Regions from separate parts of the Homo sapiens genome. Here region 1 is linked to region 2. The links come from fine-mapping of genetic effects on gene expression. Tissue or cell type: whole blood. Region 2 holds a variant in brackets; the other region holds the start of a gene. All regions are shown on one strand. Distances are between the middles of the regions.

What was found. PIP is the estimated chance that this variant, and not a neighbour inherited with it, causes the effect.
Region 1: it holds the start of NR1H3, and the variant in region 2 is fine-mapped to the expression of NR1H3 in whole blood (TOPMed, PIP above 0.99).

Annotation. Positions count from the first base shown.
Region 1 is chr11:47,256,582-47,259,197 of GRCh38, reverse strand. NR1H3 (nuclear receptor subfamily 1 group H member 3) reads right to left here and starts at 1,202. Exons shown (of 10, transcript NM_005693.4): 1 at 1,069-1,202; 2 at 1-18.
Region 2 is chr11:47,324,957-47,327,712 of GRCh38, reverse strand. MADD (MAP kinase activating death domain) reads right to left here. Exons shown (of 37, transcript NM_001376571.1): 34 at 1,161-1,169; 35 at 906-975. Among named protein-coding and RNA genes, the nearest start is that of MYBPC3, 26 kb to the left of the region's middle. The variant CA/A (reference allele first, on the strand shown) is at 1,575.

The DNA of each region.
Region 1 (2,616 bases), 68 kb after region 2:
CATTACCAAGGCACTGTCCTGCAGGAAGGACCCAGATTATACTCTTCTAGAACTGGGCTCCTTTCTGGCCTCAGCTCCCTTCTCCACCTGATCCTCCCTTTTATCAATATCAACAATATCAGCTAACATTTACTTGCCATATATTAGCCTGTACTAAGGCTTTATTATATTACTATTATGTTTTTTAGAGACAGGTTCTCCCTATTTTGCCCAGGCTAGTCTAGGAATTCCTGGGCTCAAGTGATCCTCTCACCTGGGCCTCCCAAAGTGTGGGGATTATTGGAGTAAGCCACTGCGCCCAGCCTGTTATAAGGCTTTATGTGCTTTCCTCATAATATCCCTCTGAGGTCAAAACTATTAATTTTTTTTTTGAGATGGGGTCTCTCTATGTTGCCCAGGCTGGAACTCAGTGCTATTCACAGGTGCAATAATAGGACACTATCGCCTCAAACTACTGGGCTGAAGCAATCAGGTTTCAGCTTCCTGAGTATCTGAGATTATGGGCGCACGCTACTGCTCCTGGCTCAGGACTATTCTTAAACTCATTTTACAGATAAGCAAACTGAGGTTCAAAGAGATTAAGTAACTATGGTCACACAGTTAGGCGGCGGTAGAGTCAAGACTCCAACCCTCCTCTGACTCCAAAGTCTGGGCTCCCAGCCACCGTGCCGGCTTTTCTCCCCCAAAGTCCCCTCCAGGCCAGCAGGGAATGTTTGGGTGCATCTGCCCTGCTTCTCTTGGGCCCCTTCCCCCTCACTCCAACACTGAGGACAGCTCACTCCACCCAGTGAAACACGCTGCTTATTAGAGAACCTCGCTCGTGCCACTTTCCAGGGTCCCAGCACAAACCTGTCTCCAAGAATCTCCCCAATTCACATAGAGGACCTCCTCCCCTGAGCCCCTCATGAGTTATTCTGGGACCCAGAGTCCTGCTCCTGTCCCAAGCTTCCATCACCATCACCCCTCACTTCTCCCCAGAAACCCCCTTCTCAGATCCTTAGGACATTCCCCGACCCCACCCCAGATACACACACAGAGCCCCAGGCCACTGCTAAGGAGCAGACCCACCAAATCCCCAGGCCACCAGACTTCCTGGGTGGGCAGTCTCTGGAGCCCCCTTGCTGGGAGAAGAGGATGGTGCAGTTTCCTGTCCAGAAGTCTCGGTGGCCAGCCAGTGAGCTGGAGCTGAGCACAAGCAGGACCTGGAGCCCCAGAGAAGTAGCAATTTGGGGAAAGGCTGAGGGGAGGGACTGCCGAGGGGTCAGGCCACCCCTCCTTCCTGCCTGGTGACCACAGCCCTCCCCTCCTCACCCCCGCCCACAGGGCAGCTTCTCCACCAGGCTGGCTCCTCCCCAGCCGGCCACCCCCTCTCCCGCCACTCCCGCCCCCTACTCCCGGCCAAAACAGTGGCATTTCCCTGCAGACCAGCCAAGTTCCATGTCTCTCCCCTTCCTCTCCTTACCCAGCGCTCTTAGCAGCTCTTGCAAAAGGACTGCCTCCCAGGAACCCCCACCCCAATCCCAGCAGCCTCCAGAATCGTGTTCCCTCCCCTCCATAGGCACCTCGTGGAGCAAAGGTCCCAGCACGGCCCGGAATTGCGACACTGAGCCCCAGCGGCTTTCCCAGCCTCCCTCCTCCTCCCTTGCCTCTGGGAAGAGGCCAAGAAGCTCTCCCCACTAGCCCCAGGCCTCAGCCAAGCTGGTAGAAATCCAGGGGTGGAGAGAGGCAGGTGCTGGGCCTTCCAGGGAGTTTCTGAAAGTGGGTGCCCTGCGGGGGCCACAGATAAGAGAGGAGGCCAGGAGAGCCTTTGATAGGAAATCTGCTATGAGCAGTGGCAGGCCTGGGATAGGGGTGGAGGTGGCAGAAGGAAGACAGGCAACTCAGGTGGCAGCCCAGGATGGACCTGGGAAGGTATGCGGGTTGCCTCTTCTGGGGAACAACCCCATCTGAAGTGATGGCAGGCTCCAACCAGCAGCTACTGAGACTATAGTCATTCTTCCTACTCTGCTGCCTGGGGCATGAAATCCATCCCTGAAAGTAGACATCATATTTTATTGATTTCATCTCCCCCAACACCCCTGAAACAGGGCTGGCATAGATGTGGCAACAGAGTAGGTACTGTGTTCCTATTTGTTGAATGAATAACAAGAAAAATATAATATATTCTCGGCCGGGCGCGGTGGCTCACGCCTGTAATCCCAGCACTTTGGGAGGCCGAGGCAGGCGGATCACGAGGTCAGGAGATCGAGACCATCCTGGCTAACACGGTGAAACCCCGTCTCTCCTAAAAATACAAAAAATTAGCCGGGCATGGTGGCAGGCGCCTGTAGTTCCAGCTACTCGGGAGGCTGAGACAGAAGAATGGCGTGAACCCGGGAGGCAGAGCTTGCAGTGAGCCGAGATTGCGCCACTGCACTCCTGCCTGAGTGACAGAGCGAGACTCTGTCCCCAAAAAAAAAAAAAAAAGAAATATTATTCTCGTCTATCCCGTACTTATTAGCCCTAGTCAATTTTTTTTATTATTCCTTTTTTTTTTTTTTTTTACCTTTTTTGGGGTAGGGTCTCACTATGTTGCCCAGGCTGGCTTCACACTCCTGGGCTCAAGCCATCCTCCCA
Region 2 (2,756 bases):
AAAGGTAGAGCAAGAAGCCCCAGGCCATTCTCCCGAGTTGGAAGATTCCCCCAAGTATCTCTCTGACAGAAGAGAGAAGGGAACACACGGGGAGGAAAGTCCAGTGAGCCGGTGAGAAGGGGGAGGCAAGGTAGGAAGAAAGAGGGTAGGGGAGAAAGGAAGAGACGAGCTGGCAGTGTGAGGAGCTGGTTCGATGGGAGCTACCCACCCAGGGCAGGGCCCAAGGCAGAGACCTGGGGAGAGGCAGCACGAGCCGAGGTCACTTTACCTGCTGGAGAACGAAGGTTTTCATAGCAGCGATGAGGGGCACAAAAGAATGAAGCACAAACACAGCAGGAACTCAAAGCCCCAGGGTGAGAACCCACTACACCACTCCCTAGCGCTGGCTCCCAGCTTCCGGCTACAGCTGTCCCGCTAGACTCCTCTGTCCCTCAAGTGAGTCTGCCTGCGACGCCCGGTGCCCCTTTGTCTGGCACAGAGGCCAGGTGGAGACCAGAGCGGCGCCAGGGAGGCTGGCTAGCGCACTGGGCTGCTAGAGAGATTGCAGCAGGTGACATGGACATAGTGGAGCTTGGGGGTCGCCAGTCTGCTGTGTCCCAAACTTTCTGACCACTGGCTGGCCCAGCACGGGGAGGTGGTGCTACTTCACTGAGCTGCTTCAGGACCACCTCTAAACTCGAAACCCACCTGAGGCCCCATTTGCTCTTCTGCGATCCATTATCTATCTTTCCCTTCCACATCCCGGCTCTCATCTCAGGGGTCCCTTTTCTTCCTTGTCACTCCTGCTCCTCCTGACTTCTCTACAGAGGTTCTTCTTCTCCCTGCCCCTAGACCCTCCTCTGGAGCTCCGAGGTTTGAGTTACTGCCATGTGAGTCCAGACCTAAGAGCAAAATAGTGTAATTACCAAATTCCTCCAGGACAAAGACGCCTCGAACTGTATTGCACTTTTTAATGTGATTCAGCTCTATGAAAACCTGCAAGAGAGGGAGGGAGGCCGGGGTAAGGCCCACAGGCTCCACCCCTGCCCCACACAGCACACTCTCCCAGCTACAGCCCCACCCACACAAAGAAAGTCTATTTCCCAAAGAGAGGACAGAAGAATCCACACGCACACAACTCAAAAGCGCTAAGAAGCGAAGATAGCAGAAAGGGCATGTACCTTCCGCTCCTGGCCGGAGGAGAAAGCATGGGAGAGAAATGAAGGCGTTAGTTTGAATGGTCAAACCCAACCCGAAGGCCCTGCTGCTGGCCTGGGCTGCCCGCCCGTACCCTCTGCCCAGGGCAGTGCTTGTAAGACACAGTGCCCCAGGGGTCCCCACTCAGCCCATTAGGTCTCTACCCTTCCATGCATCCTCCTCCGGCGCAGAGGGCTGGCACGGGCGCAAAGCTCCCCTCAGACTGTCCTCAGGGTGGGAGGTGTTGGTATCCTCCTTGAAACAGGATCCAGGATCTCCCAAGAGGTATGTGGTGATAATAATATCAGCTACCACTTGCTGAGCACCTACTTGGGGTTTTACAAATACGATTTCTAATCTCTGCACCTACTACGTGACACAGTAAATAGTATTACCCC[CA/A]TTTTCTACATGAGGAAACTATGGATCAGAAAGTTTCTTTGCCCATGAACGTGGAAGCTGGGCTTCAAATCCAAGCATGTCCTCACACCGAAGCCTGTGCTTTTCCCATTTACCCCAGACTGCACAGCTCCACCAGGAGGTCTGCTGCCTCCTCCACTCCAACTGAACACTGTGTGGCAGAATAGGGGGCAGGTCGCTATCTCATTACTAACTGTGAGGTGAGATTGAGAACCCGGGCTTTCCTCCCCTTCTCTGCAGTCTATCTTCTAGGGGCCAAGCCTTCAACCACAGACTGGCTTGGATGGCTGCCCAGTGGGGCTATGCCAAGGGCAGGACGAGGAACAGGGCAGAGCACCTGGGCGTTGCTCAGCAAGATCTCATCTTCAGAGGCCACGGCGCTAAAATGTGGTCAGAAGTCTGCTCCCCAAGAAGTACTGACACCTTTGTGGTCCAGAAAAGCACTTAGGTAGACCCCTCTCTGGGATGGTCCTAAGGTCTTTGGGGTTGGCTACTGCCCTAAGTCCTAAATTGAAAATATACTAAGGGGCTGCTGGCAGCCTGCGCAGCCATTTCCTGTTAAACCAAAGCTGCCCAGCTACGTTCCTGAAAGAGAGCTACAACGGCTAGCGGAGGGAGGGAGACAGCCACGTCAGTCAGGCATCCACCTCCCCTGAGGGTCTGCGGCCTGGCCAGGGTCTGTGGGGCTTCACACATTTGGGTCTGGCTCAGAGCCTCAGGGAGAGGAACCCGGACATCAGGGAAAGAGGAGGGAAGGCACTTGTGTGAGGAGTCAGAGCTGTGAACGGACCTGGGATGATGCGCTGGCCTCAGAAAGGAATTAGCTTAAGGAATGTCCACTGAGAGAAAAAGGTAACACTGTGTTAAAAGACCAAGAGAGAAAAAAAAAAGTCAGCTCCTATGGTGGAATTACAATGAGGGAAAGATGTATCCACAAGTGCTCCCCAATCAAAAGAAAGGGAATGGGGCCTGTGGAGCAGGGGACAGAGTGGGAACACTCAGAGGAAGGAAAAGAACAGGAAGAAGAATCCGCAGAAGAAAAAGGCAAATAAACACACTCCAGAGAGGACAGATACAAGCTACTTACACACAAGCACGCAGGCACGCACGCACGCACACGCAAGCTGCACGCACACCAGAAAGACACAAGGAGATCGGCCAGT